2 separate regions of the Homo sapiens genome follow, and region 1 is linked to region 2. The links come from fine-mapping of genetic effects on plasma protein levels. A gene starts in region 2. The other region holds a variant in brackets. All regions are shown on one strand. Distances are from middle to middle.

What was found. A credible set is the group of variants that fine-mapping cannot tell apart. PIP is the posterior inclusion probability: the model's chance that the variant is causal. Protein levels are from antibody-based Olink assays in UK Biobank. Linkage for the fine-mapping came from a reference panel and not from the study's own genotypes, which makes the PIPs less certain.
Region 1: its variant is the best candidate, but not a certain one, in a credible set for the plasma level of the SNX15 protein (UK Biobank, PIP 0.73).

Annotation. Positions count from the first base shown.
Region 1 is chr11:65,035,419-65,040,757 of GRCh38, reverse strand. It overlaps SNX15 (sorting nexin 15), which reads right to left. Exons shown (of 8, transcript NM_013306.5): 6 at 5,095-5,238; 7 at 1,929-2,186; 8 at 186-1,072. The coding sequence ends at 966. It overlaps ARL2-SNX15 (ARL2-SNX15 readthrough (NMD candidate)), which reads right to left. Exons shown (of 11, transcript NR_037650.2): 9 at 5,095-5,238; 10 at 1,929-2,186; 11 at 186-1,072. Among named protein-coding and RNA genes, the nearest start is that of SAC3D1, 3.1 kb to the left of the region's middle. RefSeq lists enhancers at 1,709-1,828, 1,899-1,948. The variant C/T (reference allele first, on the strand shown) is at 1,094.
Region 2 is chr11:65,024,371-65,029,738 of GRCh38, reverse strand. SNX15 (sorting nexin 15) reads right to left here and starts at 2,300. Exons shown (of 8, transcript NM_013306.5): 1 at 2,103-2,300. The coding sequence starts at 2,201. ARL2-SNX15 (ARL2-SNX15 readthrough (NMD candidate)) reads right to left here. Exons shown (of 11, transcript NR_037650.2): 4 at 2,103-2,421. It also overlaps the pseudogene EEF1A1P18. RefSeq lists a silencer at 2,169-2,338 and an enhancer at 2,188-2,482.

The DNA of each region.
Region 1 (5,339 bases), 11 kb before region 2:
TGTCCTCTATTTCCCTGAGACTATGCTCCCTATTTTCTAGCTCAGGGGCCAGCAAATGTTTTCTGCAAAGGGCCAGGTTGTAAATGTTTTGGGATTTGCAGGCGGCAAAGACTCAACTCTGCAACTGTTTCAACTGCCAGTGTAGCGCGAAAGCAGCTATCACAATACTAAATGAATTAGCCTGGTTGTGTTCCAACAAATTTTATTTATGGACTCTTAAATTTCATATAATTTTCACTTGTCACATATAAATTTCACCTGTCATTGTCACAGAATATTATTTTGATTTTTTTAATCATTAAAAAAAGTAAAAACCACTCTCACAGCCCTTACATTAAAAAGGAGGTGGGCCAGATTTGGCTGCAGGTGGGAGTTTGCAGACCCCAGTTCTAGAGGGGTAAACTAATGGTTTAATGACCACAGCTGCTGCTCACACATCAAGACAGACAGACATGGGCCGGGCGTAGTGACTCATGCCTGTAATCTCAGCACTTTGGGAGACTGAGGCGGGTGGATCACTTGAGGTCAGGAGTTCGAGACCAGCCTGGCCAACATGGTGTAACCCCGTCCCTACTGAAAATACAAAATATTAGCTGGGCGTGGTGGCATGTGCCTGCAATCTCAGCTACTGGGGAGGCTGAGACAGGAGAACTGCTTGAACCTGGGAGGTGGAGGTTGCAGTGAGCCGCGATCCCACCACTGCACTCCAGTCTGGGCGACACAGCGAGACTCCAACTCAAAAAAACCCCAAAAAGACAGGCAGGGTCAGAAGTGTGAGTCCTTGATTCCAAGGTGGCAGGTGTAATCAGGGAGCTAAGAATTCATTATTTTTCTCATTCTTGGTCCAGTTACCTACAGAAATGGCTCCTGTAATTACAAGACCAGGAGGTAGGGCCAGGCCCTGGGGAGAGGAGAAGGGGCTGGCAGTGCAGGAGCGAGAGTCCCAGGGAATGGCCCACTCCCTGTTAGGGTGGGAGTTGAGACAGGTGCAGGCGCAGGATCTCCTCTGCCCGCTTCAGGTACTCAGCTGCCTTCTTCTTCACACCTTCCTGGCGGGCAGGCAACGGGTCACCTGTGGAGAGAGAATGCTCAG[C/T]TGAGGCACCTGGGCACCACTGGCCTGGTCAGAACCCCTGGTCGGGTCCTTTACAATTCGCAGAGCATCACCATGTGCTTTTCCCTCCTCTCTGGGGCCCAGCATCCATTCTCCTCAGTCTACAAATAAGAAAACTGAGGCCATGCTGGGCGCGGTGGCTCACGCCTGTAATCCCAGCACTTTGGGAGGCCGAGGTGGGTGGATCACGAGGTCAGGGGTTCGAGACCAGCCTGACCAACATGGTGAAAGCCCATCTCTACTAAAACTACAAAAATTCGCTGGGCGTGGTGGCACGTGCCTGTAATCCCAGCTACTCAGGAGGCTGAGGCAGGAGAATGGCTTGAACCTGGGAGGTGGAGGTTGCAGTGAGCCAAGATTGTGCCACTGCACTCCAGCCTGGGCGACAGAGCGAGACTCTGTCTCAAAAAATAAAAATAAATAAATAAAAATAAATAAAAAATAAAAATTCAAAAATTAGCCAGGCATGGTGGTGGGCGCCTGTAATCCCAGCTAGTCGGGAGGCTGAGGCAGTAGAATCACTTGAACCTGGGGGGCGGAGGTTGCAGTGAGCCGAGATTGTGCACTCCAGCCTGCAACAAGAGCAAGACTCTGTCTCAAAAAAAAAAAAAAAAAAAGAGGAAGAAGAAAACTGAGGCCACAAGAGGTTAAAAACAACAACAACAAAAAAACAGAAACAAAAATCTGCCCAGGTTACACAGCTGGTCAGTGAGGAGTAAAAGGGCTCCTGATCCGTGATTTGCTTGTTTTTTTGCTCCCTTCATCACTGCCCCACCTGGGACCCAGGCCTGACCCTCCACCCTCAGTCCCTACTCACTGGGGACTCCCTGAAGCAAGACGTGCACGCCGTCTCGATAGCCCTGGAGTGCAGCAGCGTAAGCGCCTGCCTTCTCATCCCGCAGGGCCTGGGTGATGAGCTCTGTGGCCTGGCTTAGGTAGGCAGGGGTGGGCCCTCCTTCCCCATCCTCTTCCTCCTCCTGCCCTCCTGGCTCCCAGGGTTCCTGGTCCAGCCTTGCAGACTCCACCTCCATCGTTGCCAGCTCAGCCACATGGGTGGGGCTGGGGGCTGCGCCTTCTGCAGTTAGAAAGGGAGGACTCGGACCAGACTGGCCCTTCCTTTCCCAGGCCCTCTGCCCAACCCCAAGACTTCTTTTGTCCATCAGGGTATCAGCCTGTCCCCAGTAGAGGGGACCAATGCCAGAGCAATCCAGAAGTCGTCTGTGGATCAAAAACTAGCCATGAGCTATTTGATCGATAGGGTTCATGTGCTTCTGTAAAAACAGCCTTACCTTCCTAATTATGTCTTTAGGTACACACTCTAGTTTGTAAGCTCTGGGTCACTGGTCCTATTTCCCTCTTGACTCCAGTTGACCTAGAAATCCAAAAATCCCCTCCAGAAAGTTTCCCTGAAGGATGCTAGGCCACCACCACCAGGCTGAGGGTAGAAATGCTCCAAGACTTGGAATAATCTTAGAATAGGAGACTTAGAGAATCTCAGGGGTTTTCTGAAGCCTTGCAGTTTCAGCTGAGGCCCCCAAATGTAAAGACAGTGAGTGACAGGTGTCCTCACATTTCCCAGGTAAAGGCTCATTATATCCCCCTGGACTGGCTAAAAGGGGGTCGGACATCCTACCTGCAGCTTACACACGAGGCGACTGGAAATCTGGTGCACCTTTGGTGAAAAGGCCTCTGAGGGGAAGGTGCGGGGGCAGGAAGCATCATGATACCCTATCATCCTGGAGAGGGAAAAAGTGGGTGCCTCTCTAACCCCATCCCTGTGAGTTCCATGAGAGCCCTGAGAAGTCCGGGCCTCCTGCAGGAGGGAGAAGGCACCTCCTGGCTGGGCCTACAGCCCTCCATGTATTGCTCAGGGAGCAGAGAGCAGAAGAGTACCTGGGACACCTGCACACTCGAGTTAAGGAGTTTGCTGTGAAGAAGGGAGACACAGGTGCCCACTCCTTGCCTCGAGAATTCTGGTGGTGAGAGGCTTGTTGGAGGTGCCCACCATGGCAGGGTAGGGAAATAAGGCAGTGTCTGAGCACACTGCAGTTCCAGGCTTTGGGGACTTTTCCCATGGGCTGAGTGAATGTCTCATTGGAGCTGTCTGTGAAGGGTCTTGAAAAGATCCTGGCTGGACACAGTCACTCATGCCTATGATCCAGCACTTTGGGAGGCTGAGGTGGGAGGACTACTTGAGTCCAGGAGCTTGAGACCAGCCTGGGCAACATAGTGAGATCTCATCTCTACAAAAAATCAAAAACTTAGCTGGGCATGATGGTGCATGCCTGTGGTCCTGTCCCAGCTATTTGGGAGGCTGAGGTGGGAGGATCGCTTAAGCCTAGGAGTTGGAGGCTGCAGTGAGCCGTGATCGCACCACTGCCCTCTAGCCTGGTGACAGAGCCAGACTCTGTCTCAAAAAATAAATAAAAAAAAATAAAAAAATTAAAAAGGAGAGGAAAAAAAATAGAAAAGCTCCTGCCCAGGCAGCTAGCTGCCCAGCAGGGACTCAGCTGGCACAAGGACAGAGCACTTGGATGCCTGCCACCCAGAGGCCAGGCATAACAGCCCTGTGACACCAACATTGCCTTTCCCTCCCATTCCTTCTTCCCACTCCCCAACCCTGGAGAGGCAGGAGCAGGAACGGGAGGAGGCAGAACAAGAAAAGTGAAAGAGGCAGGGCATTTTGGCTCACGCCCGTAATCTCAGCACTCTGGGAGGCGGAGGCAGGTGGATCACTTGAGTGTCAGGAGTTTGAGACCAGCCTGACCAAAATGGTGCGACCCTGTCTCTACTCAAAATACAAAAATTAGCCAGGCGTGGTGGCGCGCGCCTGTAGTCCCAGCCACTCAGGAGGCTGAGGCAGGAGAATCGCTTGAATCCGGGAGGCGGAGGTGGGAGTGAGCTGAGATCGCGCCACTGCACTCCAGCCTCGGCAATCCAGAGCAAGACTCGATCTCAAAAAAAAAAACGGGCCAAGCGCGGTGGCTCACATCCGTAATCCCAGCACTTTCAGAGGCTGAGGCGGGCGCACCACCTGAGGTCGGGAGTTTGAGACCAGCCTGACCAACATGGAAAAATCCCATCTCGACTAAAAATACAAAATTAGCAGGCACCGTGGTGCGCGCCTGTAGTCGCAGCTACTCAGGAGGCTGAGGCAGGAGAATCGCTTGGACCTGGGAGGTTGCAGTGAGCAGAGATTGCGCCACTGTACTCCAGACTGGGCGACAAAGTGAGACTCTGTCTCAAAAAAAGAAAAAGAATAACAGACATGGACTCTTGCTATATTGCCCAGGCTGGTCTTGAATTCCTGGGCTCAAGCAATCTTCCTGCCTCAGCCTCCCAAAGTGTCGAGATTACAGGTGTGAGCCAATGTGCCAGGCGTTGGCAAATTTTAGAATGAAAAACTCCAGTGTCTCAGAGCTTGGGACTGTCGAGTCCCAGGATCTCACAGCAAGAAGGTGCCCAGGACCCTGACCTCCATTGGGGGGGCCCTTCTACCTCCAGCATCCCCAAATGCCAGTGGCTCCAGGCCCCCAGAGGGATTTCCCTTTGCAGCTGCCCTTTGAGCTGAGAACTCACTCCCATTGACCAGCAGGCCTCTTGCCTTCAGGATCTGCAGCCAGACCCTGGCCAGTCAGGAAATCCCACCAAGAGCTTGCAGGGAAGGAACTAAAATGTCCCAGAGCAGTGTGACCCGGCTCTTTCCAAAGCCTTCTCAGTGAGATGGCCCCAACATGGGAAGTGCCTCCTTTCCTTCCTCGTGGCTATTTGTTGCACAGGTGCATCCAGCACACCACACCACGTGCCCTGGCACAGGGCTTCTAATTCTCATTGAAGCTGCTATTGGCCCACAGGGCAGCACTGCTGAGGAGACGTCTCTCCCTGATCTGCGCAGGCACTGAGCAGGCTAGTGGGGCTCTGCCCTCCTCCCTGTCCCAAGGACGTCCTGCCCTGGCTCCTTCCCGGCTGTCCCAGCTCATTACCTTCCTTGGAGAAGGGGTCGAAGAGGGCAAGCTCAGCCTCGGTGAGGGGGCCTCGGGCAGGGGAACCAGATGCCTCCTCGGTGCTCTCACAGTTAAAGAGGAGATCCAGGGCCTCCTGGGCAGGGCTGGATGGTGGGGGGTCCACTGAGGAAGAGATAAGTGGGGTCATGAATACCTGCGTTTATTTCTCAGCTTTCAAAATAGAATTACTCTCTCCTTAAACCCTTGCAGCAACCATGGGCATA
Region 2 (5,368 bases):
CGGGTGTGGTGGCACACGCCTATAATCCCAGCTACTCAGGAGGCTGAAGCAGGAGAACTGCATGAACCCAGGAGGTGGAGGCTACAGTGAGCTGAGATCACACCACTGTACTCCAGCCTGGGCGACAGAGCAAGACTCCGTCTCAAAAAATATATACATACATATATTTATATATTATGTGCTTTATATTTTATATTTATTATATATAATACATTGTATTATATAATATGTATAAAAATATATCAAAGTAATGCATGTTGCTTGGTTTAAAAAGCCAATGGGAGGCCGGGTGTGGTGGCTCACACCTGTAATCCCAGCACTTTGGGAGGCCAAGGCGGGTGGATCATGAGGTCAAGAGATCGAGACCATTCTGGCCAACATGGTGAAACCCCATCTCTGCCAAAAAATACGAATATTAGCTGGGCATGGTGACGCGTGCCTGTAGTCCCAGCTACCTGGGAGGTTGAGGTGGGAGAATCTGAACCCGGGCGACGGAAGTTTGCAGTGAGCTGAGATCGAGTCACTTCACTCCAGTCTGGGCGACAGTGAGACTCTGTCTCAAAAACAAAACAAAACAACGACACAAAAAAGCCACTGGGAAGACTTATTTTTATTTATTTATTTATTTATTTATTTATTTATATTTTTGAGACGGAGTCTCGCTCTGTCTCCCAGGCTGGAGTGCAGTGGCACAATCTCGGCTCACTGCAAGCTCCACCTCCCGGGTTCACTCCATTCTTCTACCTCAGCCTCCCGAGTACCTGGGACTACAGGTGCACGCTGCCACGCCCGTAAGTTTTTGTATTTTTAGTAGAGATGGGGTTTCACCATGGTAGCCAGGATGGTCTCGATCTCCTGACCTCGTGATCCGCCCGCCTCGGCCTCCCAAAGTGCTGGGATTACAGGCGTGAGCCACCGCGCCCGGCCACCACTGGGAAGACTTATAATAAAAGGTTACAGTTCCTTGCCACATCCTCCCCACCCCAGCCCCACCTCCAGTCTATCTTCCCAGGGACAATCTATTTATTTGCTTTTTTTTTTTTTTTTTTTAAAGTTGTGTGTGTGTCTGTATTTTAATATTGATCCGGGGTCTCACTATGTTGCCCAGGCTCGTCTTGAGCTCCTGAGCTCAAGCAATCTGCTGCCTCAGCCTCCCAAAGTGCTGGGATTTACAGGCATGAGCCACTGAGCCCGGCCTTATTTGCATTATTTTTAGGCATGGAAAAGACGTAAACGGTTTGGGGAAAGCATATTTTAAATAGCTAAGATTCTGCACTTAGATCACTTTGGAAGTGTCCTTATGTGCCTGCTTTGCTTTTAGAGTTAACTAATGCACCAGCTTAATAGTCGCCTGGTTGAAAATTCTAAAAGTACAAAAAATTTACAGTAAAAAGTCTTCCCCTAACTCCTGTCCCCAGTGACACAGTTCCTCTCCCTGGGGACCTTCCTTGTTACCAGTTCTTGTTATCATTCTACAGGTGTCCTGTTTTACTGTTTCATTTTTAATTATTGTCATGGTTTCCTCCATGTCTCTCTATAAATTGTGCTTATGATGTTGTTATCGCTTCATATATCAACTCTAGCCTATCTATCTTCCTGCTGTGACCTTGATATGGCGACTTACTCCTTAAGTCCTTCTGAACTGCATCAATTTTTTTCAACCACTGATCAGTATTATTTTTTGAAAAATTAAAAATGGTTAAACTCGTTAAAGGGAGTTTATGTAACATCAAACAAACCAATAAACAAAACTTACTCTACGAGAATGGAGTACTAATATTTGGATTAAACCAGAGTTTTCATGTTAATTTAGAGAAATTCACAGCCTGATGCCCAGACACTACACTCCGGGCGTGGGCATACACGCCTTGCCTGTCCGGGAACGGCCGTCAACGCCCTTTTAAAAAAGACAGCGCCCACCCAGGACCCCGCCCCCTGGTGGTTAAAGATGTAAACTAAGCCTCGTACTGCAACCTCCCCTTAAAGGGGAAACCCATTTCTGTCGTCTAAAAAGGGAGCAGTGGCTGCACCGCCTTTCCTTAAGGTAAAACTCGGCGCCCCTCTAGTTAAAAGGGTAAAGTACGCGCTGGGCCCCACCTCACCTGCGCGGTTACTTTGTACTCGGTGTAGCCCTTGGGGTGAGTCCTGGGGTCCGACACTGTGTAGTGCCGCAGGAAGTCATCCTTCGCCTGGCGGGACATGAAACCGAGCTGGAGCGGAGCGGAGCGCCGGCCTCCACCTCCTCGCCGTCCCCACCCCTCCGGCCCAGCCTCCGCCCGCCGCCGCCTCGCCAGGCCTGCGCTCTTCTTCCTCTGGCCTAGGGATTTTGTCGCAAGTGACAGCGCTGTTCCGATCCCGGGTGCGCGGCCAAGGGAGCGTCTGAAAAGTTCCTTCTCTGTGGTGAAGCGTAAACCCAGGTCACTGGAAAGATTGGTTGGGAAGGCTGGGATCACTCGTCTCATTTCTGCCGGGTGATCAAGCCCACCCTATCCAAGCGTAAACCCTTGTCACAGACTTCCAAACGACTTCTCCCCGCTTCCTAAATCCCTGCTTTCGTTCATCCACCCAACTCTTATTGTGTCCAGTATGTACAGGACAACGTCAAATTATTTCCCTGTCTCCCTCCACAGGATTCCCTAATTCATGTTTTCTGGAAAGTAGAGGAAGCAAAGAAGGTTGGAGAAGCAGGATGGTGTCATGGGCTCTGAGTCACGACTCTTACTAGCTGTAGGAGTTTCCCTTAACTACTCAGCCTCAGTTTCTCATCTGTAGAATGGAGATGTTTATAATAGAATCTGTGTAGGGCAGTGGAGCTTTTTTGCGATGGGTTTGCTGCCAGAACACAGGTGTCGTGAAAACCACCGTTAAATCAAAGCCAAAATGGGGGTTTGGCGCGGTGGTTCACGCCTGTAATCCCAGCATTTTGGGCAGTGGAGGCAGGTGGATCACTTGAGGTCAGGAGTTCAAGACCAGCCTGGCCAACATGGTGAAACCCCGTTTCTACTAAAAATACAAAAATTAGCTGGGCGTGGTGGCGCACGCCTGTAATTCCAGCTACTCCAGGGGCTGAGCTGGCTGATGGCTTCAGCCCAGGAGGTTGAGGCTGCAGTGAGCTGCAATCACACCACTGCACTCCAGCCTGGGCAACAGAGTGAGACTCCATCTCAAAAGAAAGGGAGCAGGGGAGGGAAAAGACTCAGCTCAACATCATCATCTGATTTGGGCAAGTCCAGCACTACTGGCCATCTGATCTACAAGTGTGGTGGGATCCACAAAAGAACCATCGACAATTTTGAGGAAGCTGCTGAGATGGGAAAGGGCTCCTTCAAGCATACCTGGGTCTTGGGTAAGCTGAAAGTTGAACGTGAGAGTGGTATCACCACTGATACCTCCCTGCTGGCAATTGAGACCAGCAAGTACTATGTGACCATCCTCAATGGCCCAGGATGCAGAGACTTTATCAAAAACCTGACCTCAGGCTAATTGTGCTGTCCTGATTGTTGCTGCTGGTGTTGATGAATTTGAAGCTGGTAATTCCAAGAATGGGCAGACGCGTGAGCACACCCTTCTGTCTTACACGCTGGGTGTGAAACTAATTGTTGGTGTTAACAAAATGGATCCCAATGAGCCACCCTAAAGAGGAGAGATGGGGGCCGGGCGTGGTGGCTCACGCCTGTAATCCCAGCAGTTTGGGAGGCAGAGGTGGGTGGATTAGGAAGTCAGGAGTTCAAGACCAGCCTGACCAAGATGGTGAAACCCCGTCTCTACTAAAAATACAAAAATTAGCTGGGCATGGTGGCGGGTGCCTGTAATCCCAGCTACTTGGGAGGCTGAGGCAGAGAATTGCCTGAAACCAGGAGGCAGAGGTTGCAGTGAGCTGAGATCGTGCCACTGCACTCCAGCCTGGGAGACAGAGGACAGAGTGAGACTCCGTCTCAAAAAAAAAAAAAAAAAAAAAAGGAGAGATGGGAGAAATCATTAAGGAAATCAGCACCTACATTAAGAAATTGGCTACAACTCTGACATAGTAGTATTTGTGCCAATATCTGGTTGGAGTGGTCACAACAGGCGGGAGCCAAGAGCTCACATGCCTTGGCTCAAGGGATGGAAAGTCACCTGTAAAGATGGCGATGCTGTGGAACCACGCTGCTCGGAAGCTCTAGATCACATCCTACCACCAACTCACAAGCTCTTGGTTCTGCCCCTCCAGACGTCCACAAAATTGGTGGTATTGGTACTGTCAGTGTGGGCCACGTGGAGACTGGTGTTCCCAAACCTGGCATGGGTTTTGAGACCTTTGCTCCAGTCAGTGTTAGAATTGAAGCAAAAATCTGTTGAAATGCAGCATGAAGTTGGTAGGCTTACATACAACACATAGTATTTACTGCAGAGGAAGCATTGTGAATAGCCACTCTTGTTCCTGGAATTCAGGTGTACAGGTGCGGTGCCTTGGTCTTCAGAAAGAAGCAAAGCCTGGCATGGGGCTCATGCCTGTAATCCCAGCACTTTGGGAAGCCAAGGCGGGAGGATCACTTGAGGCCAGGAGTTCAAGACCAGCCTGGGCAACAGGCTGCCTCTGATTTCATGAGAAATTTAAAAATTAGCTGGGGGCCAGGTGCAGTGGCTCATGCCTGTAATCCCAGCACTTTGGGAGGCCAAGTCGGGCGGATTACTTGATATCAGGAGTTCAAGACCAGCCTGGCCAACATGATGAAACCCCATCTCTACTAAAAATACAAAAATTAGCCAGGTGTGGTGTCGGGTGCCTATAATCCCAGCTACTCGGGAGAATGGGGCAGGAGAGTTGCTTGAACCCGGCAGGCAGAGATTGCACTTAACCTTCTGGAGGAAATGTCATCCAGGAGCCAGTCAATGCCAGGCAGTGGGTTCTCCCCAGCAGTGGGGCTGCAGCCCTTGACGTACCAGTGGTGGCTGCAGAGAGTCCAGATGCAGGGCTTGGGAGAACAAAGGTGCTGGTGGTGGCCAGTGACCGCAGACCCTTCCCTCCCTGCTCAAGGGTCAGCCCATCCAGGAAGCCTCCCCGGCCCCTGGGAGAGCTTATCTGTTCCCCGGGGCACCTGAGCTCTCTGTACAGTGCCACGCCAGTGCCACCCCTTAGTGTCCCATATAAGAGAGGATCCTGATAGGCGGCACTGCATAGGGCTGTCCCTAACTGTATTGCTGAATGGAATGGGTAGTACTTAGAACAGTGTAGGGAAAAGAGAGATCAGACTGTTACTGTATCTATGTAGAAAGGGAAGATAGAAGAAATTTCATCTTGACCTGTACCCTGAACAATTGCTTTGCCCTGAGATGCTGTTAATCTGTAACTTTGCCCCAGCCACTTTGCCCCAACCCCTTTGCCCCA